7 linked regions of the Homo sapiens genome follow. The protein of the gene in region 2 purifies or fractionates together with the protein of the main gene of each other region. This does not show direct contact. Each region holds a gene or a part of one and is shown on either strand. Other genes may lie near its edges.

What was found.
Region 1: the proteins of ST8SIA4 (region 2) and RNASEL purify together in Homo sapiens (affinity purification with mass spectrometry; 2 studies listed by BioGRID and IntAct, with this or other methods). This does not show direct contact.
Region 3: the proteins of ST8SIA4 (region 2) and MRC2 purify together in Homo sapiens (affinity purification with mass spectrometry; 2 studies listed by BioGRID and IntAct, with this or other methods). This does not show direct contact.
Region 4: the proteins of ST8SIA4 (region 2) and CELSR2 purify together in Homo sapiens (affinity purification with mass spectrometry; 2 studies listed by BioGRID and IntAct, with this or other methods). This does not show direct contact.
Region 5: the proteins of ST8SIA4 (region 2) and PLXNA1 purify together in Homo sapiens (affinity purification with mass spectrometry; 2 studies listed by BioGRID and IntAct, with this or other methods). This does not show direct contact.
Region 6: the proteins of ST8SIA4 (region 2) and CACHD1 purify together in Homo sapiens (affinity purification with mass spectrometry; 2 studies listed by BioGRID and IntAct, with this or other methods). This does not show direct contact.
Region 7: the proteins of ST8SIA4 (region 2) and TCTN2 purify together in Homo sapiens (affinity purification with mass spectrometry; 2 studies listed by BioGRID and IntAct, with this or other methods). This does not show direct contact.

What each region holds. Positions count from the first base shown.
Region 1 is NC_000001.11:182,586,457-182,590,611, reverse strand, and holds the start of RNASEL (2-5A-dependent ribonuclease), read left to right. Parts: upstream 1-1,355; 5' UTR 1,356-1,445; intron 1,446-3,641; 5' UTR 3,642-3,805; coding exon 3,806-4,155.
Region 2 is NC_000005.10:100,851,283-100,854,782, forward strand, and holds part of ST8SIA4 (CMP-N-acetylneuraminate-poly-alpha-2,8-sialyltransferase isoform a precursor), read right to left. Parts: intron 1-3,500. UniProt on the Homo sapiens protein: Catalyzes the transfer of a sialic acid from a CMP-linked sialic acid donor onto a terminal alpha-2,3-, alpha-2,6-, or alpha-2,8-linked sialic acid of an N-linked glycan protein acceptor through alpha-2,8-linkages.
Region 3 is NC_000017.11:62,630,670-62,634,169, forward strand, and holds part of MRC2 (C-type mannose receptor 2 precursor), read left to right. Parts: intron 1-3,500. UniProt on the Homo sapiens protein: May play a role as endocytotic lectin receptor displaying calcium-dependent lectin activity. Internalizes glycosylated ligands from the extracellular space for release in an endosomal compartment via clathrin-mediated endocytosis.
Region 4 is NC_000001.11:109,256,039-109,259,538, forward strand, and holds part of CELSR2 (cadherin EGF LAG seven-pass G-type receptor 2 precursor), read left to right. Parts: intron 1-2,393; coding exon 2,394-3,041; intron 3,042-3,500. UniProt on the Homo sapiens protein: Receptor that may have an important role in cell/cell signaling during nervous system formation.
Region 5 is NC_000003.12:127,031,615-127,035,114, forward strand, and holds part of PLXNA1 (plexin-A1 precursor), read left to right. Parts: intron 1-772; coding exon 773-985; intron 986-1,071; coding exon 1,072-1,222; intron 1,223-2,307; coding exon 2,308-2,403; 3' UTR 2,404-3,500. UniProt on the Homo sapiens protein: Coreceptor for SEMA3A, SEMA3C, SEMA3F and SEMA6D. Necessary for signaling by class 3 semaphorins and subsequent remodeling of the cytoskeleton. Plays a role in axon guidance, invasive growth and cell migration.
Region 6 is NC_000001.11:64,473,129-64,476,628, forward strand, and holds part of CACHD1 (VWFA and cache domain-containing protein 1 isoform 1 precursor), read left to right. Parts: intron 1-3,500. UniProt on the Homo sapiens protein: May regulate voltage-dependent calcium channels.
Region 7 is NC_000012.12:123,688,113-123,691,612, forward strand, and holds part of TCTN2 (tectonic-2 isoform 1 precursor), read left to right. Parts: coding exon 1-65; intron 66-2,420; coding exon 2,421-2,562; intron 2,563-3,500.

The sequences.
Region 1 (4,155 bases), on a different chromosome or scaffold from region 2:
GGTGCACAACACCACACCTGGCTACTTTTTGTATTTTTAGTAGAGACGCGGTTTCACCATGTTGGCCAGGCTGGTCTTGAACTCCTGAACTCAGGTGATCTGCCTGCCTTGGCCTCCCAAAGTGCTGGGATTACAGGTGTGAGCCACCACGCCTGTCCAACAAGTATTAATTAAATGAATAATGGGTTAAGGATTTTTGAACTTTGTCCTGAAAATGATGGTGGGTCAATGATGCAGGGTGGAACAATGGATGAAGGGCTAGGAAGCAAGTCATCAATTTCTTGCTATAAATGATGACAAGGACTCGAATGGTCATCCCTTTGTAGATGAAAGCAAGAGACTTGGTGTTGGGATGAGGATGAGGGGTGGCCTCCGGGTGATGGTGCCATCTGTGGAGATGGAATAAGTGGGAGGAGGGGCAGATTTAGGAAAAGATGAGTATTTCCATTTGACACATATTCAAGATTTGTAGGTCTAAAGCTCAGCAGAGAGGCTGGGGTTAGAGAGCGAGGCCTGGGAATCCCTGGTGTATAAGGGGTGGTAGAGGCCCCGGGTCTGGATGGTGTGACACAGGTGGTCGTCAAGTGACCATGCACTACTTGTTGTTCACAAGTCCCAGGGCTTTGTCTCCCCAGCAAGACTGGGTATTCTTTGGGGATGGAAATACTTTCCACTACAGCACTAAGTACACAGTACACAGCTCATTGCTAGGAAGATAGTCAAGAACAGAACTTGTAGAGCAGAAAGGAACCTTCAAAACCAAGTTATAGGAGAGAACTGAGGCCCTACATGGTTAAATCACATGCCTGAGGTCACTCAGCTAAGCAGCCACAGAGCTGGCTGTAGGATCAGGTCTCCAGACTGCCAGTCCGGTACCCTTCTGAGAAGGCCGCACTGCCTCAGAGCTGTGAGTTGAGTGAGCTGAGAAAGGTGACAGGGCTTGGGCTTTGGGCTTACTTAGCTTCTATGAGCCTGCGTTTCATAATCAACAAGATTGTCAGGGGTTAACTGGGACCATGCTGCATGTAAAGCATTGTGTCTGGAACACAATAGGTGCTCAATATGTGTTTACTTTCCATTCCTTTCTTCCAAGAAGACCAGAATTTGCAATGACAAAGAAAGGATGCAAGAGTGATGGATGCAGTTGGCTGCTGCCACCTGAAAGGCTGCAAGACTGAGAGGTGAGTGACATGACCCCGGGCATCACATTCCTCATCAGCAGACAGAAAGTGGCTATTGCTTTCCTCCAGAAGGTGTGCAAGTAGAAGCTTTGCTCCTGGTGCCAGAGTGAGCCTGTGGCTGCTTTCCCTCCCACACTCCTCACTCCTTTCTTGGCTCCGCCCTGCTGACTCAGTGACGCAGCAGGAGGAAACTGCTCGGGCTGCAAGCAGTCTTCCAGGCTTTGCGGCTGCCAAAGGAATAATTGAGACGTCTGAGTTGAGCAGGTAAGGCAGGCAGAAGGAGGAAAGCTAGAAAACCTCGATAAGTCGATCCTGAAGAATTCTTGGGCTTTGGAGACTGGAGAGGCCAGGGGCTGGAGGACTTGGGAAGTGGGAGGGGAGCTCCCAGCCCTTGGCTGCCCGGAAGGATCTTCCTCCAGTGCCCTTCCAGAGTTCTGTCAGAGTCCACACGTCATTTATCCATGTCCTCAGTTTCTCAGGCATCTCTTTGCGACTTACTCAGGTCGCACAGAGAAAGTGAAATTGAAAGCAGGATTGTCTGTTGGAGTACTTCCGCAGGCTCGTCTCTTCTCTACTCTGATGCGTCACTCAGGGCTTCCTTGATATTTCCTCTCCTTCCCGGCTCCTTTGTTTATACCAGCCCACCTCACATCTGATTGTAATGGGGACGGTCTACACAAACACTTTGGTTCAAAGATTTCATTGCCTGGTGATCGTGTATGTGTTGCACAATTAATTAAACTTCTAAGAGGCTAATCAATTAACCTCTGAGGCTTTGAAACTGTCAGAGTGGTGAGATTGCTGAAAAAGGGTTGCTTCGTGAATTCTATAGCAGATGCAGTTATTTAAATATTCAGGTAACAGTTTCGGGCTGTCTGATGATTGAACTGGATCTGTAATTCTCAGATCTGATTGACAGTTGGACGAAATTGATAGCTGCCAGTTGCCTATTCGTGTAGTAGCTATATGCACATGTGTAGGGAGAATAGAATTCACTAAGCAATTTATTTTTTCATAACGGGATATAATTAGCTCTAACATTCATTGAGTGGCTAATATTTGCAACACTCCATACTTTAATGTACTTTACACACATGACTGTATTTATTTTTGTCTCCATTTCAGGAAATAGAAAATTGAGATTCAACAATCCAAGGTTACAGGAAGTAATAGTAAAAAATTACACAGCCACAAGCTCAAACTTAGATCTCCCTAAGGTCAGAGTACAAGCTCTTTTCACTACTGCAGATACTCCTTGACTTATGATGGGGTTACATACAGATAAACCCATCCTAAATTGAAAATATTGTAGGTCAAAAGCACATTTAATACACCTAATCTACTGAACGTCATAGCTTATCCTAGCTTACCTTAAATGTGCTCAGAACACTTACATTAGGCTACAGTTGGGCAAAATCATCTAGCTCAAAGCTTATTTTATAATAAAGTGTTAAATGTCTCATGTATTTATCGAATGCTATGCTGAAATAAAAAACAGAATGGTTGTATGTGTACTTGAAGTGTGGTTTCTACTGAATGTTTATTGCTTTTCCACCACTGCAAAGTCAAAAAATCATAAATCAAAGTCAAAAAACATAAGTCAGATATTGTCTGTACTTTAAATAGGGGCACAGGGTTGTACAAAGAGGACATGCACAGAGTCAGCAAACACAGTGATCAACCTTCCTGGTGACATAAGAAATGCAAAGGGAAAAAAAGCCAAGAAATATATTTTTCTTATTGAATGAGGGTTCTTCTTTTTTTATTGATAAATAATTGATGTGCATATTTTCATGGTCTTTTTTTTTTTTTTTTGGAAGCCACCTATCTCTGGTAAGAATATATTTATATGACATTGAAAGCAATTTGTTAATATAGGTTAAGAATCCTAAATACAATCATATCTTTTGAATAGTCATTAAATTCTTTGAAGTCTATCATATGAAATCTATCATAAGATCTATCGAAAGAAAATAAACTAAAATAAGCTGAATTTGCTGCAACATCATTTAGATTTTTTAAATTTTTAATTTTAAAAAACCCTTTAAAACTTATTTTTGAAAACCACTCAGTAATAGAGAAATGAAACAACTGTATGATTTCATATTACATAGTCATGAAAAATGTTTTACAAGACTTTGCAATAACACAGGAAATGACTTATAGTATGGTATTAAATGAAAGGAAGTAGGATACAGTTACTTACAGAGTATAATTCCAAATGTCTTAAAAAATATATAGAAATACACTAAAATATTAACATTGGCTGTTTCTGGGCATTGGGACTAGAGAAATAATTTTCTTATTTTGAATTTACATATATTTATAATATTCTGTAATTTAAAAGTTTTATAAGAAATAAATATATGTATTTAGAAAAAATGCTAATATAATTAATTTCTCTGATTCAAGTGTTTTCTCCCTATTGTAAAATTACAAAGCACCTCTCTTCGTTGCCAGGTGGAATGTCAGAAGACTGAGAACATTGTTCCTTCTTCATACTGCTGCTCTGTTGCCAGAGAATCCCAATTTACACTCAAAGCTTCTTTGATTAAGTGCTAGGAGATAAATTTGCATTTTCTCAAGGAAAAGGCTAAAAGTGGTAGCAGGTGGCATTTACCGTCATGGAGAGCAGGGATCATAACAACCCCCAGGAGGGACCCACGTCCTCCAGCGGTAGAAGGGCTGCAGTGGAAGACAATCACTTGCTGATTAAAGCTGTTCAAAACGAAGATGTTGACCTGGTCCAGCAATTGCTGGAAGGTGGAGCCAATGTTAATTTCCAGGAAGAGGAAGGGGGCTGGACACCTCTGCATAACGCAGTACAAATGAGCAGGGAGGACATTGTGGAACTTCTGCTTCGTCATGGTGCTGACCCTGTTCTGAGGAAGAAGAATGGGGCCACGCCTTTTATCCTCGCAGCGATTGCGGGGAGCGTGAAGCTGCTGAAACTTTTCCTTTCTAAAGGAGCAGA
Region 2 (3,500 bases):
TTATATTTTAAAATATACTATTAGTTTATAAAATCAGCTAACCAGAATTGTATATTTACTTTCCTTTCCCTACCTCTCATTTTTCCTATAATTTAAAATATTTTTAATAACAAAATAAAATTATATACAACAAGAACAAATGAGAAGTACTACAAATGTCCATCAAACAAGATTGGTTAAATACATTATAGAAAAGTATATAATGGAATATACTTTCCTATTAAAAAAAACAAGCTGTATTTATGTGTTGTTGAGAAAATGTCATGTTAATTTAAAAAATAAAGTGCAAAAGAGTACATATGATTCGAGTTGTAGAGCTACTACAATAAAAACATATTTAGGTTTGTGCATATAAAACATAATTTTAAAATATGCTTCTCTATCTATCTGTCTATCTATAGGTTTTTTGGAAGGATTCTTAAGAAATTCTCGTCATAGTTTGATATTGAAACTGAGGATACACTTTCTGTAATGTTTGTTTTTTTCCCATATTAAAAGTAAGAAAATTAAGTATAATCATCCCACCAAAGTAAAAACAACACTTGGTTATTACTAGTCAAATTAAAGTAACTGTAAAATAAGAATTTTTACCTAACTCTAAGTATTTTATAAAAATGTATTTGAGCTATGTCTTAGATAATAATTTAAAATATTATATAAAACTGTCATTAATTTAAACAGGTTATTAAGATATTAAGTTGTATATTAATAATTTTCTTAGAACTGTATAAATAAGAAGCTTTTATTTTACATTTTGTAGCCAAATTTTTAAATGACTTTGAAGTCCCCAAATCCCCTCTTCATGCTTACTATCTTATTTGCTCCACTCTTCTTTTTTTTTTTTTTTTTTTTTTTTGAGACGGAGTATCACTGTGTCATCCAGGCTGGAGTGCAGTAGCATGAGCTCGGCTCACTGCAACCTCTCCCTCCCTGGGTTCAAGTGATTCTCCTGCCTCAGCCTGCCAAGTAGCGGGGACTACAGGTGTGTGCCACCACATCTGGCTCTTTTTCGTATTTTTAGTAGAGGCGGGGTTTCGCCATGTTGGCCAGGCTCGTCTCAAACTCCTGACCTCAGGTAATCCACGCACCTTGGCCTCCCAAAGTGTTGGGATCACAGGCATGAGCCACTGCACTGGGCCCAAAATTGCTCCATTCTTTATTAAAAAAAAAAAATACAAAATGTTAATTTGAAAAATGCAGCCCATGTGTGGGGCTTCTGAAGAAATACCAGTAAAAAAGTGGCAATCCCACACCAATTTTATGCTTTCATACATTCTCTTAAACTTGCAATTTATATATCTGATTTGTCCCCATTAGATTACTCTCTTACTATTTTTCAAGATTCTTTTTAAATTATGAATCTACCTATATATCTTTTCCTTCTGTTTTACTGAATATGGTTTCAAAAGAATGACAATATATTACAACAATACCTAAGAGTATCTGAATTTTGTGACTGATGGTTTCATCTTTAGAGCTTTTAGAAAAATCTAAAATTAAATAGGTTTTTAAAGTTAGTAAGGAATCACAGTTTTTGGAGGGCAAAATGTTTAAGTAATGATGTCTGACCATATGAAAACTATCTAAATGATCCTCACTGTGTTCAGGAATCTTGTTTTACAAATCACTGAAACTTTTTATTTTAATTGCAGTACTTGGAAGAGCCTTCACATTTTAACATTATGATTATACACACCCTAAATTCTGTGTCTTGGGTGCTTTAATTGCTCATGAGAGGCAACCAACTCCAGTAATCAACAGAGGATATGAAACTTCTTATTTTGCTGAACTGTATTAACCACAGGGTTTCAGAGAGGTAAGTCAAAGGAGATGTAAAACAGTTACTTAAAGAATAGTTCTTTGGGGAGTTTGCCTTTGCTTTCATATCACAAAAATCATTTTTGTTTCATCAGCGCTCACACTTCCTTATTTTCATTTACAGTTCCAGCAGCAAGTACACACATTAGGTCAAAACGCTATCTTACATACATCAATGTATTAGTTTCAATAAAATCCATAAATGAAGTTGCCTTTCACACGTACACCATGTGTACAAATTTCCATTCTATTTGAAAAGTCACAAGCCTCTCTAGAGCTACTTTCATTATTCTTGGCCACAGTTTAGAACTCAATACCTTGACACTTTAAGAGGGTATATGTAGATTTGTGAACAGGAAGGTGGAGAGAGAAGTTATTTCTACAGAATTCAAAATCAGTTTAGAAAATATGCCTAATTCATAGTAACCAAAAAAAGCATACCATTCCTTTCACCAGTGGTCAGAAGTTTGGCCTTGTTGCTCTTTGGAATAAAATGGTTAGGAATTAGTGAAGTAGTTTATATTTATAATGGTTATAAAAGTGAATAGGACAAAAGATAGGAGTCTTGTTAAATTACTAAAAGAATCTGCAAAGTTTATGTTTAAAATATCTGTAAAAACCCATGTGTATTCACTGTTAATCATATATAACACTATCTGGATTCTAACTTACTGAAAATGCACTACTGCAGTCACTCCTCTTATTTCATGCTTTGGTTTTGGTATTGGATTGAGAAATATAAACCAAAATCTAGGAAACAAAGGTACTAATTCAGAGTAATCTTAAGTTTTCTCATTAGTTTTCCATAGTCAGGGAGGACTTACTTCAGATTATTTCTTTCTAAAACTTAATCTGCTATCACTGGAATGTGTTTGTGTGTGTGTATGTGTGTGTGTGTGTGTGTGTGTGTATGTTTAAGATGGAAACATTATCTTTTTAAGGTGTTTTTCAGAGTAACATGATACCCAAACAAAAACAGACATGTTCTTAACACAATGCACTGTAATGTTACAGTTTCTTAAGATGCACATTTTTTTAAGAGTCAAATTGTAATTACCAGGGATATTTGTAACTTAAAAAAAAAAGGCGGTGACTTACTCTCCAAATGCAGTATTTTTATCTTATTTTGTTGAAACTTCCTGTCAACCACCAAGAGAATGTGTGTTGAGTAAACATGATCTAATTATAAGAATGCAATTTAGGCCAGGCACGGTGGCTCATGCATGTAATTCCAGCACTTTGGGAGGCCGAGGTGGGTGGATCACGAAGTCAGGAGATCGAGACCATCCTGGCTAAGACGGTGAAACCCCATCTCTACTAAAAATACAAAAAATTAGCCAGGTGTGGTGGCGGGCACCTGTAGTCCCAGCTACTTGGGAGGCTGAGGCAGGAGAACGGCGTGAACCCAGGAGGCAGAGCTTGTAGTGAGCCGAGATCGCACCACTGCACTCCGGCCTGGGCAACAGAGTGAGACTCTGTCTCAAAAAACAAAACAAAACAAAACAAAACACAAAAAACAAAAAAAGAATGTAATTTAATTGTGTGCAAAATAATACAATACAAGAAACTATCTAGAGATTTAAACAGGAAATGGTAAATCCTTGCAGGAAATTATCTCAGGAACAAAACAAAAATACCTTAGCCCAGTTCCTATTACAGTATAAGAAACTATTTTTAAGTCT
Region 3 (3,500 bases), on a different chromosome or scaffold from region 2:
GGGAAAGGGGCTTCTGGGAGCTCCAGGGATCAAGTCTCAAGGCCATGGGGTGAGGAGACCTCAGGAAATCTTCCTGTGGGGAAGGTCGGTGCTGCCTAAAGGACAGGGAGGGTGGCATCGGGTACTTGGGGCTCTGACCAGAGTCAGCCAGACCAGCTCCCTACACTTCTGGCCCAGCTTCTGCTGAGTCGTGGGGTTCGGAAACTTCTTACTGTTCCCCCACGCAAAACTCAGTTTTCCTTGCTCCAACCCTCTGGCTCTCTGTGAGTCATCAGGGCCCAGGAGGTGCCCAGCCGAGCTGTGGCTAGTGCTGGGATCCTGGCTCTCTTCTGGGTTCACCTGGGCAAGGTGAGGGTACATGGAGGGGAGGAAGAACCCCGGGTTTTGGCCCCCATTTTTCGCACCAGAGAAATCCTGGCTTTCTGATGCACGTAGGGCACCGTGACTTGGCTCAATGAGATGATTTCGGAAGTGCCATGCAGTTCTCAGGCAGATATTCATTTGAGTTCCTCATCAGTTTAAGCATCGAGGAGGAGTCCTGTTGCACTGTCCATACCCCCAGAGGGATGGAGCGATGGCACCCACGGCTGCGCTGTGCATGTGGTGGGCGCCGTGCTGGGTCCTGTGCTGGCAGTAGCTCTTCGGCACCTCCCATCTCTGAGCAGGTGTCAGAGATTTGCACACACCTGGCGTGAAAATGTTAAAGATGTTAAGGGAGTCACTCAAGGCTGTGCCACCACACCACTAGAAGGTGTTACCAGTGAGATTCGAACCCAGGAGTGGTTACGGAGCCTGAACGCTCCAGTACCATACAGCGTTTCCATCGCATGAAGCACTGTCAGTGTGTGTGTGTTAGGAAAGCCTGGGAAATTCTGCCTTATGTGTTCTCCCCGCCCCCATAACTCCAAGCCCTCTAGGACACCTCTCAATGTGTCCCACCGGGAGGACTCCTGAGGAGGAGGGTGGAGCGAGCAGCCCTCTGTCACATGTCAGCGGTCTGGGCGCTTGGGTCAGCCACTTCCTTGTGGGTCCAGGAGGCCTGGACCGAGCCGCCTGCAGTGTCCTCAGGATCTCTGAGGGACCCCCTCCAAGAAGGCATTGATAAGTGAGTGACTCAAGGTGCCCCAGCATGGCACTCCAGCTTCCCTGAGGTCAAGGATTCACATGGTTGTTCATTCATTCATTCATTCCTTCAGTGGGTGTCTGCTGAGCTCCTGCAGAACTGAAGTAGAGATGGCCATGGCCTATTCTTTATTTGAGACCTCCCCACCGTGTCTCCAGTGGGGGTCCCTGGACTTGGAAGGCCTGAGCACTGCTGATAGGAAGCGTGTCTTCCTGTTCAGGCCTACGTGAGATGGGAGGGGGCCGCTTTCCCACGCCTGGGTCCTGTGAATCTGGGTGGGGTGGGCCAGTGGGGTGGTGACGCGCTCCTGGAGCTCACCCTGGGCCCTGCAGATCTGTCACTCTTCAGCTAGGGGTTGTACCAGTAAACGGCAGCTGGATGAGGGCTGTCCAGTGGCACCTGTGACACCGGGGTCTGCCGGGGTCCACCAGCTGCAGCCCTTTAGGAAACAGATTGGGTCGACCCCCTCAACTGCACACTGTGGCCCCTCGTGGAATTCCACCGGTTGTTTCCCTTCTTGCACTTCCCCCTGGCCCCTCGTCTCTCCTTCCGCCGCTGGGCACCAGCCTCTTGGCTCTGCACTCTCACAGCGCAGACCCTTCCACCTGCGCTCTGCTCCCCTCAGCCTCCCACTCCTCCTGATTTCTCTTTCTCTGACTGTGCATTCTGCCCTCCGCAGCTCTGGTTTTTGTTGTAGAAGAAGGACCAACTTCTTCCTAGTTTCCCCGGCCCCCCATGCCTCTGGTCTCTTGTCCTGCCCCAGCTTTCTCCACCTCCAGGCTTCTGCCCACGCACGATCACTTTGCCTGGTGTGCCTCCCCTCCCCTCTTCTTTCCCACCTTCCAGTGACCCTTCCTTCGAGACTCAAGGATCCTGGGGAGGACGCTGAGGGAGCCTGGTCCCTGCCTCTTGGGCTGACCTGGGGTGACGAGAGACAAGCACACAGACATGGCCCATGGTGACAAATCCCAGATTGGATGGGTGGCCTCTCTGTTTATCTCCTTCCCAGGGATCACCTCAGGAGGGCACATGTAGGGAACACTATAGCCAGCCTTCCTCAGCCTTCCCCAGCCTTCCCTGAAGGCAGCCGGGTGCGAGGCTGAGCAGTGGCCCCTTCCTCCTGTAGATGAGGCAGGAGTGTGGGCATGGCTGGCAGTGTTTCCCCCCGTCAGTCCTCTGGAAATGTAAATAGGGACAGAGTCGGTGGGACCAGGATTGATGGCACTCACCAGCTATGTGACCTCAGGCAGAGGCTCAAGTGTCTTCATTTATAAGATGGGAAAAATCAATACCTCTTGTAGAGGTATTATAAGATTACATACAAATGAGATCATGAACGTATGAGATATGTCCCTGGTACACTACTGGGCACAGAATAATTTCTTAGCAAACAATACTAAATTATTGCTATTTTTATTAGAAGAGAAAGGGTGGGTGAGGTGGCTCATGCCTGTAATCCCAGCACTTTGGGAGGCCGAGGCGGGTGGATCATGAAGTCAGGAGATCGAGATCATCCTGGCTAACACGGTGAAACCCCATCTCTACTAAAAATACAAAAAATTAGCTGGGTGTGATGTGGGGGCGCCTGTAGTCCCAGCTACTCAGGAGGCTGAGGCAGGGGAATTGCTTGAACCCAGGAGGCGGAGATTGCAGTGAGCCAAGATCATGCCACTGCACTGCAGCCTGGGCAACAGAGCGGGACTCCGTCTCAAAAAAAAAAAAAAAAAAAAGAGAAAACATGACTATCAAGGTTCCCAAATATGATAAAACACAGTCTTCAATATACAAAATCCTGCTGGACACGGTGGCCCATGCCTGTAATCCTGGCTTGAGCCCAGGAGTTCAAGACCAACTTGGGCAACATGACGAAACCCAGTCACTACAGAAAAAAAAAAAAAAAAAGCTGGGTGTCCTGGCTCATTCCTGTAGTCCCAGCTACTGGGCAGGCTGAGATGGGAGGATTGCTTGAGCACAGGAGGTTGAGGCTGTAGTGAGCCACGATTGCATCATTGCATTCCAGCCTGAGTGACAGAGTGAGACCCTGTCTCAAAAAAAAAAAAAAAAAAAAAAAAAAAAAAAAAAAAAAAAAATCCTAACTACAGCTGTCACCAGAAAGGAGGTCCAATCCAGACCCCAAGAGAGGGAACTCACGCAAGAAAGAATTTGAGGCGAATCCATAGGGAATAGTGAAAGCAGGCTTAATAGGAAAGTAAAGGAATAAAGAATGGCTACTCCATAGGCAGAGGAGTAGCACTGACGGCTCAGCTGCTTATACAATTGTTACTTCTTGATGATATGCTAAACAAGGGGTGGATTATTCATGAGTTTTCTGGGAAAGGGGTGGGCAATTCCCGGAACTGAGGGAGTCTTCCCTTTT
Region 4 (3,500 bases), on a different chromosome or scaffold from region 2:
ATCAGTTATGGGCACTGTGTGTGGAGTCTTGGGCTGCTTTCTGCCTGGAGGGAATATCCCGTCAAGGAATCATTAGGCAGATATACCAGGTATACAAGAGCTCTGTGCCAGCTGAGCATCCTGGTGCGGGGAAGTCTGAAACGGAGAGGAAAGTAGAGCCTGATGACATAAATCTGGGCAGGCTTCCTGGAGCAGGTGAGCTAGGGCAGGTTAGAAGACTCAGAGGACTGTGGGCTGGTGTCTGGGTGGGAAGGAACAGCCTGTGCAGCAGCTTTGAGACGAGAGCAGGAGGAACAGAAGTGGGTGATGACAAGCAGGCTTGCTGGTGAGAGCTAGTGAGAATAAGCAAGTGATGAGGCTGGAGGGTAGGTGGGCAGTCGGCTGAGGACATGGCTGAGATGGGGGTCTGCTTTCAGCCTTCCCGGCTTCAGCTGAGCCACCGCTGGTACAGTCAGCCACCGCAAGTAGGTACAACACAGATGCAGAATTTGTTCCCATGTCCCTTGCCTACTCCCACCCCACCCCAGAAACATGGGCTCCTGCCCCGTTACTGCTAGGGTAAGCATTTGCTTTTTATATCTAGTTGGGCTCCCCCTGCTATGTGGTTTTGTTTGTTTGTTTGGGACAGAGTCTCACTCTGTCACCCAGGCTGGAGTACAATGGCGCGATCTCGGCTCACTGCAACCTCTGCCTCCTGGGTTCAAGCAATTCTCCTGCCTCAGCCTCCTGAGTATCTGGGACCTCCTGAGTAGCTGAGATTACAGGCACCCACCACCACGCCCAACTAATTTTTGTATTTTTAGTAGAGACGGGGTTTCACCATGTTGGTCAGTCTGATCTCGAACTCCTGACCTCGTGATCCACCCGCCTCAGCCTCCCAAAGTTCTGGGACTACAGGCGTGAGCCACTGCGCCCGGCCCCCTGCTATGTTTTAAAGTCCGTTTATTCTTTGTGGAGACTGAATAGATTGTCATCCACATCTCAGTGTTTTCTGAACACCTACTATGTGTAAGGCATTGTAATAAATACAAATATGAATATGCCAGTAGCTCATGCCTGTAATCCCAGTGCTCTAGAAGGCTGAGATGGAGGATCACTTGAGGCCAGGAATTTGAGACCAGCCTGGACAACACAGCAAGACCCCATCTCTACACACAAACAAAAATTAGCCAGGCATAGTTGTGAGCACCTGTGGTCTCAGCTATTTGGGAGGTTGAGGTGGGAGGATCGCTTGAGCCCAGGAGTTCGAGGCTACAGTGAGCTATGATCGTGCCACTGCTCTCCAGTGTAGGCGACAGAGAGTCTGTCTCTTAAAAAAAAAAAAAAAAAGACTATCCCTTCTTGCCCTGTAAAGCCATTTCCTCCTTCTCCAGGCCCCAGCTTTCATTTTTTAGCTAAATAAAATTCATTCCCATGTGTATGTGCATTCAGGTGTGTATGGTATTTCTGGGCTTAGGGTGTGTGGGTGGAATGAGACACCAGCAAGTGTGTTTTAGTGCTTAGCTGTTTATAAGTGAGTGTGTTGCCTGGGGGCATAGCAGGCATTTGGGTGTAATGGTTGAGCCAAGTGGGTGATGAGTAGCTAGAGGCCCTAGGACCAGAGAAGAGACTGACTCAGTGGGGCTCTGGGGTCTCAGAGTGGAGAGCTGCCCAGGCCCTTCTATCTCTGCCTTCCGGTCCCCCACCCCGACTCACCCTGTCTCCAGCATGGGGCAGTGGGTGATGATGTCACTGGTTAACGTGGCTCAGCTGGATTTCCTGGGGTGGGGCCCCCCAGGCTACCCACAGCAGCCCAGAGAGTTGGGCGGGAAGAATGCTTTGTGTTGGATGTTGCCATGGGGATAGCAGGTCTGCGCGCCCAAGCAGCCATGGGGCTCAGTGGGAGGGGGACTAGGTGGCCCACTGACCCAGTTTACCCACTCCCCCCCACCCCCGCCAACTCCCTGCTGCTGTGGGGGAGTGGGGAACACAGCCATGGTTGCGATTATCGTGGTGTTGAGGTGTAGAGGCTGAGGGGGCAGGGGGATGATTTTTGTGGGTCTCAGGATGCTCTGGGCCCTGTAGAAAAGTATGAAAAAGACAACATAGGGTTCCCGCGCAGGCAGCACAGACTCTGGGGGAAGGGAGCAGGAGCGGTGGCTTGGGCAGGGAAAGGTGCACAAACATTAAGAGGTGTGCCGTGCATCAGCGACAGAAGGTTTTGGGAAAGGATGCAAAGAGAACTGCAAATCTCATCCCCTGAGCCCTGAAGGAGTGATTGGCCCACACGTGACATACCTGGCTCAGCACCCTTATGCCAGTTGGAAAGGAGAGCCTTTCTTGGTGGGTGGTGCAGGAATATGCAGGCTGAATTGCAGCCCCAGGCTGGGTCCTGACTGTGTCCCTCTCCACAGACGGCGTACACAGCGTGACCGCCCAGTGCGCGCTGCGTGTGACCATCATCACCGATGAGATGCTCACCCACAGCATCACGCTGCGCCTGGAGGACATGTCACCCGAGCGCTTCCTGTCACCACTGCTAGGCCTCTTCATCCAGGCGGTGGCCGCCACGCTGGCCACGCCACCGGACCACGTGGTGGTCTTCAACGTACAGCGGGACACCGACGCCCCCGGGGGCCACATCCTCAACGTGAGCCTGTCGGTGGGCCAGCCGCCAGGGCCCGGGGGCGGGCCGCCCTTCCTGCCCTCTGAGGACCTGCAGGAGCGCCTATACCTCAACCGCAGCCTGCTGACGGCCATCTCGGCACAGCGCGTGCTGCCCTTCGACGACAACATCTGCCTGCGGGAGCCCTGCGAGAACTACATGCGCTGCGTGTCGGTGCTGCGCTTCGACTCCTCCGCGCCCTTCATCGCCTCCTCCTCCGTGCTCTTCCGGCCCATCCACCCCGTCGGAGGGCTGCGCTGCCGCTGCCCGCCCGGCTTCACGGGTGACTACTGCGAGACCGAGGTGGACCTCTGCTACTCGCGGCCCTGTGGCCCCCACGGGCGCTGCCGCAGCCGCGAGGGCGGCTACACCTGCCTCTGTCGTGATGGCTACACGGGTGAGCCAAGGGAGGGGACTCATGGGCCAGCCCTGGAAGGCTGACTGTGTGGTGCAGGCACAAATCAGGACAAATGCTGGCGGCTGCCTCATTCTCTTCCCGAGTGAGGTGCAGCTACACTGAGAGGTCATAAATCCGGCCTGCTCCCTGACAGCACCCCACTGAGGAAGGCAGTGCAAGGAGTGCTTCTCCCTGCTGTGCACAGGACACACAGGCAGTGCCATTGTGGGCAGAGCTGGCTCCAGAGCCAGTCGGCCTGTGTTCGTGTATCAGCTTTGCCGCTAGTAGCTGTGTGACCTTGAACAAGTTACTTAACCTTTCTGGCCCTCGGTTATTTGAAATGGAGATAATGACCGTACTTAGGTCATAAGTTGGTTGTGAGGATTAATGTAATTAATTTGATACTTGGAAACAGCTGGTGGCATGGAAGGTGTTGGCCTTGATTTAAGGGAACGCTGA
Region 5 (3,500 bases), on a different chromosome or scaffold from region 2:
GCTTCCCAAACCTGGGATGCAGCCACCCCAACCTGTCCCAGCTCCGCCCACTGCTCGCGGAGTCTAGGATTTAAATGAAGTGTCACGAAGCCCCTCTCCTGGGCCATGCTGATTGGGCACAGCGGGAGGTGGGGCCTCCAGGGACGCAGTGTCTCCAGGTCAGCATGTTCTTGGAGAATGTTCTGTCACAGTGGAACATTCTAGACCCGTGCTGTCCAGGGTGGTGGCTCCTGAGCCTTTGAAATGGCACTGGTGTGGCTGAGTGTCTGGGCTCTTCACTTCATTTAAGTTAAGCAGCCACGTGTGGCCAGTGCTGCCAGGCAGCCCAGCTAATGGCAGTCCCTGAGGTGGTGTTTGGGGCACAGAGGGCTGGTCTCTGCAGGAATGGGTCCCCTGGGCCGGAGCTGAGCTGCAGGTCTCAGTGCAGGAGCCATGAGTGCAAGCCAGCATGCAGGCCTAGGAGGGTGGTGGCTGTGTGGAGTGGGCCCCTGAGGGCCTGGTCACATCTTGCCCTTGTGCAAACGAGTGCGTTTGAGCACGCCTATCTCATGATGCTCTGCGTGAGATGCAGGTGGTGGGGGCAGCACATCTCTGGTTGGGTGGCAGGGGACGGCCTTCACTTAACCATGGGCCCTGCACCTCTGTGGGCCTCGTTTCCCCGTCTGCATGGAAAGCCATGCCCACTTTGGATTCGGAGCTGGGAGGGCCACAAGGTCACTGCTCAGGAGGGAGCAGAGGCCTATCTGAGCAGCGCCTGGACTCTCGCCTGCAGCCTGCCCCTGCGCTTCTGGGTGAACGTGATCAAGAACCCACAGTTTGTGTTCGACATTCACAAGAACAGCATCACGGACGCCTGCTTGTCGGTGGTGGCCCAGACCTTCATGGACTCCTGCTCCACCTCTGAGCACAAGCTGGGCAAGGACTCACCCTCCAACAAGCTGCTCTACGCCAAGGACATCCCCAACTACAAGAGCTGGGTGGAGAGGTAGGTGGAGGGTGCAGGGGTCGGGGGCAGGGGCCCGGGGGCAGCCTGGACTCTGCTCATGTGCCCACCTGGCCACTCACCTGCAGGTACTATGCAGACATCGCCAAGATGCCAGCCATCAGCGACCAGGACATGAGTGCGTATCTGGCTGAGCAGTCCCGCCTGCACCTGAGCCAGTTCAACAGCATGAGCGCCTTGCACGAGATCTACTCCTACATCACCAAGTACAAGGATGAGGTGAACACCGTGGGAGCCCACAGGCTGGGCTAGGAGGGCTTGCCGGCCCCTGCCAGAGTCACCTGCTCTGCCCCGCCCTGCCACTCCTCCCTGAATCTCTGGGCTGCCACTGACCACCTTCACTCCTCTGCACCCTCTGGCCACCTGGTTCCTTGGGGCCAGGAGGGAGCCTGCCAGGCCGAGCAGAGAAGGCCGTGGTGGAGTCACTGTGTGCAGCCATGTGGGGTCAGGGGTGGGGAAGATGGGATGGCAGCTTCTTCCTGAGGCAGAGGGTGTGTGGGTGGTGAGCAACTTCCCTGAGGGGCTCATTTCAGGGTTTTCTAGTCTGGGCCAGCATCTCCAGGGCTGGGCATAGGCTCTTGGCAGAGCTTTCCTTTCAGTATCTTTTCTGCTGACTTGGAGTGAGGCCACGTACATGGACCTGGGGACGGGGTCCAGGAGGTATCCAGGAAGGAGAACTGGCTCCTGGGCCGCACAGGATGGGAGCACGGGGCCAGAGGGCAGGACAGTCTCGGCCTGTGCCAAGGCTCTGAGGGCTAAGAAGGCCACGGGAGTGAACCAGAGCCACCCTGGGGAGGCCAGGGCAGGTGCAGCAGAGGCAAGGAACCTTCCCCAGGGTGCCACAGGAGGCAGACAGGAGGCAGAGGGCTGTCCTCAGGCAGGTGCCCCAGGGGAGCAGAGGAGCAGCCAGAGACTGCATGTATTAGGGTGGGGAGTGGGGACAAAAGCCTGGGGTCCTGGGGCTCACCAGGGAAAGGGGAGCTGAGGCTCTCTGGGGAGCTCTGCTTTAAAGGGGCACAGAAACCCCAGGGTGTGAGGACTGGGTGGGGACATGTCAGCAGCATGGCCAGGCAGCCAAGGGATCAGAGCCTGCTGTTTTAGGGGGTGAGAGTAGGATGATGACAGGGGCAGGGCTCATTCTCCATATTGGGGTCCTGGAGGGTCCAGGCTCACAACCAAGGTCCTTTGGCCAGGGGTAGATGGGGTTGAACCTCTGGCACCTACTCTGGAGGCATCTGCCCTGGGCCTGCTGAGTGCATGGAGGCTGGTGGCCCGGCATGCTGACAGTTCTCCTGGCCCTGCAGATCCTGGCAGCCCTGGAGAAGGATGAGCAGGCGCGGCGGCAGCGGCTGCGGAGCAAGCTGGAGCAGGTGGTGGACACGATGGCCCTGAGCAGCTGAGCCCCAGCTGTGATCATCCAGCATGATGCAGCGTGAGGACAGCTGAGCAGGGACCGGGACAGCCCTCACCGCATGCGTGTGGAGTGTCCGGTGGTGCTCGGGCCGCCGCAGTGCAGCGACTGCCCGGCCCTCCCTCCCCTGCCTCACCCGGTCGGGTCCCGGCTCTTCCTGTGTGGAGGTGATGGTACCTGCCACACCACAGCTGCGCACACAGCTGCTTGCTCAGGGGCCGGGACAGCACTGGGTGCTCAGGCTGGCCAAGGACCTTCATTGCCTGGCAAGAGCTGCCCAGTGGCCTTCATGGGAGAAGGGCTGACCTCTGAGGGGCTGAGGGGTGAGGCCAGGGCCCTCCAGGGGGAGGGGTAGCCAGCTTGGGCTGTCCCCTTGAGACCAGGACAAGAGGCTGGGGGTGTCAGCATTCCCAGCTTTCCAAGCTGCCCCCAGGCGGCAGAGTCTGAGGGTCCCGGGGCCCGGTTGGCAGCTGGAGAAAGAGGCAAAAAGCCCGTAGCCGGGCAAGAGGAGCTCAAGTCGGTCTGGGCCCGTTGCCACCGACTCCCACCTCCAGCACCCATGCCCGCTGCACCGCTGCCATCCTCAGATTCACCGCGTGCTCTGCGCGGCCGAGGCCGGAGCACCACATCCACCTCGCCCCAGAGAGGCTCTGCTCCCTCCTATGGAGGGGCTGTGGGCCAGGCTGCTCAGACTCCTGGGTGGCTTCCAGACGGACCGGGCAGCCCCTCTCCGTCCTCAGGGCTGTGCCTCTGGGAGCCACTGGGCCAGGGGCCCCGGGTCGCAGAGAGCACGTTCCCGTTATTTATTCCCCTCCGCGTCCTACACAGGCTGCCCTGGCAGCTGTCTTCAAGGGTAGGCTGAGCTCCCCACCCTGGAGCCCCTGAGGGCGGCCCCTGAGCACTCCTCTCTCTCCACTCTCTCTGTCCCTGCCCCAGCGGCTTCCAGTGTGGCATCTCAGCAGTGTCCTGGCCCCTCCAGAGCAGTGGGACATCTGGGGACTGTTTTTGTGTTTAGGGGAAAAAATTCTGCTGCACTCTGCTTGGGCCTTGAGGTCTGTGGCAGGGCTCCTCTGGCCCGCAGTGGCC
Region 6 (3,500 bases), on a different chromosome or scaffold from region 2:
CTCATTGTGGAAACGGACCTCCTGTGGACAGGGTTTTGTCTGGCAAAATGTGAAGTGGCTTCTCTCCTTTTTTGAAAGGAGACACACATACTGTATTTAAATTCTGCTTCTTGAGCTGTACATTGATCTGCCACTTGCTTCTAACTGGGAAAATTGCAGAAAGTGTCTCTTTTTAATTTAGTTAGACTGGTCGGAAAAAAAAAAGTCGAATGCAGGTTAGATTTTTGGCCTTAGAACAAAGATTTTGAGCCCCACATTCTCATCTGTAAACCTTTGGGATTTGTTCAGTGGGTCTGAAATTATGTGGGTTTAGTTACCTAAAGTGTAGGTTATATAGCCCTCCCTGCAGCATGATGGATTTTATAGAGGTGGAGCTAATCTGTTTTTCAGAGGTAAGCCTCACATAGGCTTTAAGGTGTGACTTCCTACGAAGATGGTCAGGGTGGGGGTGGAGAGGGGGATAGTTGTGTCTCTTTGGAAAAGAATGTCTTCCCTTGCTTAAGGGATTGACTCCTTTCATTTGACCTTGGCATTTTGAGCATAGTACAGGCCTTTCAGGACACCATCTCACTTTATGAGAAACATTCTATAGGCCTCTTTATATGTAAAAAGCCAATGTTCAGACTTTTATATTGCTTCTGCTGCTGAAATTCTCGAAAGACGATTTTAAAGTTTGAGAAATTATAAAGTAGCCCTCAAACCAGGCCTGTTGTTTTGCAGCATTTCAAGTGGCAGCACTTACTGCTTATAAGGAGTTGCAAGGGGGTAATTTTACAAAAACAAAAACCTAGGCTTCTTTTAGCACTATAGTTTCCCATGACGTAGTTTTCGCACTTGCTGATAGAGAAGACAGTTTGAAAAGCGTCTACCTTGAAGATTTTCTTGGAAAATTCTCCAGTGGGGGCTGCCTACTCATGATTTTTGTTGTTCCTTTTTAATAATGGACAAAATATATTTTAAAAAATCTTTAAATAAGTTGTGCCAACCAATTTTGCCAGTACTCTGGGAAAGCTGTCACTGAATACTGTTCCCCTGACAGCAGACATCATACATCATGGATAAAAGTCAAAAACCTAATCATCATCTCCTCATGGGTCTGGTGCAGAGGAGCCATGGTGGCATTGAGGTCTGGGAGCAGTAAGTGGCTGTGTCCAGGGAGACGGGTTTTTGCCTATTTATTCATGCAACAAGTTTTTATCAAGCAGCATCGTGGAGTGGAAAGAGCCCCACATTGGGTAGGTAGAGACCTGGATTCCAGCTCTGCCATTTGCAAGTTGGGTGATTTTATCTGTAAAATTGAGGATGGTGATTCTTCCTCAAGATTTGCTCTGTGGACTTAAAGGAAATAGTGCATGTAAAGGCATCTGTTAATGTTAAGCCAGGGCTGAGAAATATTGATGGATGTGGTTGTTCTCAAATGGAGAAATGATTATTGGAAGCTTACTGAGCATGGAGCTCTATGCTGGGTATTCAGGGGATTTTACAAGGACGTATTCCAGCACAACTCCTTAAGGAGTTTACATTCTCGAGGAGGAGATAAGATTGCACAGGTAAACCAGCTAAGTAACAATGCCTGCTTGTTAGAAGGCATATCTGGCTCTGGGAGCCATTTCGCCAGGCACTTATAAGGCCCATTTAACATTATAGGACAGTACAGGCTTCCTAACAGCAAGGGCCTGGCACAAGGCCAGTGTGCCTGCCTTAAAGTTAGCCCAACTCTGCTGGGCTGGGCACACTTACTATGAACTTGGCAGACAGACCAGCAGGTTGGTCAGACAGCTGCTGGATGAGGCCTGGGAGGGAGGGAGGAGCAGGGTTTCTTCCAGTCAGGGCAGAAGAAATACCAGAAGCAAGAACTGGAGCTTCAACTCCAATTGAAGAAAAAGCAGCAGCTAGAACAGAGGCATGTTCAGGAACTGAAGGACTCAGCTGGGGCAGAAGTGTCAAAGATATAAAGCAATGTTGTAAATACTGACTACAGCTGGAATTAAAGAGCAACGCTTCTTTGTATGCAGTAAAACAACAATGCACTAAATTCCTTCCTTTTTTTTTTTTTTTTTTTCTTAAGAGACAGGATCTTTGCTCTGTCACCTAGGCTGGAGTGCAGTGATGTGATCATAGTTCACTGTAACCTCAAACTCCTGGGCTCAAGCAGTCCTCTTGAGTAGCTGAGACTACACACACATACCATCACACCCTGCTAATTTTGTAATTTTTTGTAGGGATGGAGTCTCACTCTGTTGGCCAGGCTGGTCTTGAACTCCTGGCCTCAAGTGATCCTCCCACCTTGGCTTCCCAAAGTTCTGGAATTACAGATGTGAGCTACTGTGCCTGTCCTGCATTATTCATTTTCGCATATATCCAACAAAATTTTGGGGAGCTTCTGCTCTATGAAGGGTCTTGGGTTAGATTTTATTTATTTATTTTTTATATTTTGAGATGGAGTCTTGCTCAGTCACCCAGGCTGGAGTGCAGTGGCGTGATCTCTGCTCACTGCAACCTCTGCCTACCGGGTTCACGCCATTCTCCTGCCTCAGCCTCCTGAGTAGCTGGGTCTACAGACGCCTGCCACGACACCCGGCTAATTTTTTTTGTATTTTTAGTAGAGACGGGGTTTCACCATGTTAGCCAGGATGGTCTCGATTTCCTGACCTCGTGATCCACCCGCCTCGGCCTCCCAAAGTGGGGTTAGATTAAACTGGCAATCACAGGTGACTAAAGCCTAGTCCATGCCCTTAATCTGTCAACTAATGATGGAAATAGACACAAAAAGAGGCATTATGATACAGGTGGTTAGCGAGAGACATAGAGGCATTACACTGCAGTAGGTTAGTGCAGTGGTAGAGAGAGAAACAGGATATTATGGGAGCATAGAGGAGCCTTGCCCAAGCCCCTCTGGTGAAGTCAAGGAAGTTAGCTACTTCTCCATTGTCCTTTTCAGTGAAATGTCCACACACACAGGCCAGTCCTGAAGGAAGCAGCAGCAGCAGCAGCAGCAGCAGCAGCTTCACACATGAAGGGTAGCCAAATCAGTAGTTCATTAGATGTTTCTGATTCCTTTGGTGGCACTGGACAAGGTAGCTCGTGTATCTTGAACACCTGAACAGGACTCTGACTCCTGTGCCCCTTCATATGGCTCCCATGTCTCATTTCTTTGGCCATTATCCTAGAGCTTCTGTGGTTATTGGACATAAATATCTTGCTGGCTCTATTATAACTGCAAGCTGATTTGCAGTCATGTTTGGTAAGATGTGTAATTTCCTCTAAATCACATGCATCATAACAGGACAGGGCTGGTTTAGAATGATTTGAATGTGTAATTACGCAATATAGAATATTTTCGAAGGAAAAATCACCTGTATATGCAAATAATGTGATTTGATTCTACGCCTTGTGTACCATATAAGCCTTAGTGGAAAAACTGCTGTGTTGCTTTCTTTTGAAAATGGATATTTAGAATAGAAGAAAACTGTCCATTGACGGATGACTCTGAGTTGAAC
Region 7 (3,500 bases), on a different chromosome or scaffold from region 2:
ACTTTGGTTACAAACAAGGAGATCCCATTATGACTGTAAAGAAGGCATATTTTACTATTCCGCAGGTAATCGTTGCAATATTAGTATGCTAGACCGTTCTCTTTTTTTTTTTTTTTTTTATGAGACGGAGTCTCGCTCTTACCTCCTAGGCTCAAGTGCAGTGCCAGATCTCGGCTCACTGCAACCTCTGCCTCCCGGGTTCAAGTGATTCTCCTGCCTCAGCCTCCCCAGTAGCTGGGACTACAGGTGTGTGCCACCGCACCCAGCCAATTTTTTGTATTTTTAGTACAGACGGGGTTTCACCATGTTGACCTGGATGATCTCGATCTCTTGACCCTGTGATCCTAGTGCCTCAGCCTCCCAAAGTGCTGGGATTACAGGCATGAGCCACCATGCCTGGCCACTAGACCCTTCTTTTATTTTTCCTGTCCTATTGTTAATTTAAGTCATATTTCTCTTTAAAATCTCTTTTTAAGTTACTTACTTTCCTCCTTTCTACCTTTCAGGGACTTAACTGTTTATGTTCTCCAAATTAATAAAATATATAGTCACTCTTAATCACTGTCTTTGCTTAAAACTCAGAGTGAACTTACAAAATAAAACCAAAAGATTTTCTATAAGTTTCCATGGAAGTACCTATCATTCTTTTTCTTTTTTTTTGAGACAGAGTTTCGCTGTTTTTGCCCAGGCTGGAGTGTAATGGCACAATCTCAGCTCACCGCAACCTCTGCCTCCCGGGTTCAAGCGATTCTCCTGCCTCAGCTTTCCCAAGTAGCTGGGATTACAGGCATGCACCACCACGCCCAGCTAATTTTGTATTTTTAGTAGAGACGGGGTTTCTCCATGTTGGTCAGGCTGGTCTCGAATTCCTGACCTCAGGTGATCTGCCTGCCTCAGCCTCCCAAAGTGCTGGGATTACAGGCATGAGTCTTTTTTTTTTTTAAATTAAAAAAATTTGTTTTGGTTTGAGACATAGTCTTGCTCTGTCACCTAGGGTGGAGTGCACTGGCGTGATCTCAACTCCCTGCAGCCCTGACCTCCCACATTCAAGTGATCCTCCTACCTCAGCTTCCCAAGTAGCTGAGACTACAGGCACATGCCACCATTCCTGGCTAATTTTTTGTAGAGGTGGGGTTTTGCCATGTTGCCCAGGCTGGTCTTTTTAACTTCTGGGCTGAAGTGACCTGCCCACTTTGGCCTCCCAATGTGCTGGGATTACAGGCTTGAGCCACCGCGCCCAGCCAAAAATTTTTCTGTAGAGATGGGGGTTTCACTATGTTGCCCAGGCGGGTCTTAAACTCCTGGCCTCGAAATTCTTCTGCCTTGGCCAAAGTGTTGGGATTACAGTGTGAGCCTTGATGCCTGGCTAGCAGTAACTATCATTCTTTGCTTCTTTTTCTTTTTATATTTTTATTTTAGGTTCAGGGCTACATGAGCAGGTTTGTTATATAGGTAAACTTGTGTCATGGGGTTTTGTTGTACAGATTATTTGTCACCCAGGTACTAAGCCAAGTACCCAATAGTTTTTTTCTGATCCTCTCCCTCCTCCTACTCACTACCCTCAAGTAGGGTCCGGTATAAAAAACAATGGTTAGATAAATACATCATTTTATTTACCATTCTAGAATTTTGAAAAATATTTTAAGGCTGTAAGGTTGTATATGGAATCATTTGTATATCTATATATGAATGCACAAGTGAATGAATGACAGGGTCTTGCTCTGTCGCCCAGGCTGGAGTGTAGTGAGTGTAGTCACAGCTCACTGCAGCCTCCATCTCATGGGCTCAAGCAATCCTCCCACCTCAGCCTCCCAAGTAGCTGGGACTATAGGTGCATGCCATTATACCCGGTTAATTTTTTACTTTTTGTAGAGACAGGGTCTTGCTATGTTGCCCAGGTTGGTCTTGAACTCCTGGGCTCAAATGATTCTCCCACTACAGCCTTCCAAAATGATGGGATTACAGGTGTGAGCCACTGCTCCCAACCTGAAATCTTTTTTTAAGTTCAACATTATGAGGAGTGTTATTTGTGGGAAGAAAGCATGGGAGGTGAAAATTTCTCTTTCCTATTCATATGAATCCATTTTTATGGTATTAAACTCTGGTTGTGATGAGGGAGAGAACATGAAGTTAAATATAGTCATGTCTCTGCAAACTAAATAGAACAGGACAAGGGATTTTCTTTGTTTTTATTAGACAATATTTACTGTGACTCCACAACCAGTGGCTTCCAGACCTTGATGGGCAAATCAGTTAGATGTTTTGCTAAAGCGGGTCAACTAGTCGGTGAACTTGCCGTTGCTGAAACCAGACCAGCAATGGGAGCAGGCTGCAGAAAGACCAGTTTTAAGGGATGCTGATCTGTTTTGTATGATTAGGAGAGAGGCCATAAATCTGTTGGCTTTGCCCTTCTCCCTCAGGTGTCCCTGGCTGGGCAGTGTATGCAGAACGCCCCAGTGGCATTTCTTCACAATTTTGATGTTAAATGCGTTACTAATTTGGAACTATACCAAGAACGAGATGGTATTATCAATGCGAAGATAAAGAATGTTGCCTTAGGAGGTATGTTACATTTCTTTGAAAAAAGAACACAGGCCCAAACATGAATATAAAGTATGATCTCATGAGAGTATAAATCATTTCTACTGGTTCAACTTCAAATAATATTTGAACTGCCAATTATTTTCTTTGGAAAAAGTTTAGTTCCGTAAGACAGCATATTGCATATTAATTATTTTGAAATTGAAGTAAAATTCAAATAACATAAATTTAGCCTTTTTGTTTGTTTCTCCGTCACGCAGGTTGGAGTGCAGTGGCGTGATCTCGGCTCACTGTACCCTCTGCCTCCTAAGTTCAAGCGATTCTCCTGCCTCAGCTTCCCGAGTAGCTGGGACTACAGGTGCCTGCCACCATGACTGGCTAATTTTTGTGTTTTTGGTAAAGATGGGGTTTCACTGTGTTGGCCAGGTTGACCTTGAACTCCTGACCTCAGGTGATCCACTCTCCTAGGCCTCCCAAAGTGCTGGGATTACAGGTGTAAGCCATCGCGTCCCACCAGAATTAACCCTTTTAAAGTGTACAATTCATTGACATTAGTACCTTCCACACTGTTGTGCCACCATCACCTCTCTCTAGTTCCAGAACGTTTCATCGCCTCAGAAGGGCATCTGTACCCATTAGCAGTCACTCCCTACCCCTCTTCCCTCAGCTCCTGGCAGCCACCAATCTGCTTTCTGTCTCCGTGGATTGCTTATTCTGGGTGTTCCCTAGAAACAGAATCATACACTATGTGGCCTTTTGTGTCTGGCTTCTTTCACTGAGCATGGTGTTCCATGGTTCATCCGTGTTTGTAGTGTGTGGCAGCACTTCATTCCTTTTTATGGCTGAATCATAGTCCATTGCATGGACAGAGCACATTGTGTTTGTCCATTCCTCAGTTGATGGACATGTGGGTTGTTTTCATCTCTGACTGTTGTGAATAGTGCTGCCATGAACACTCG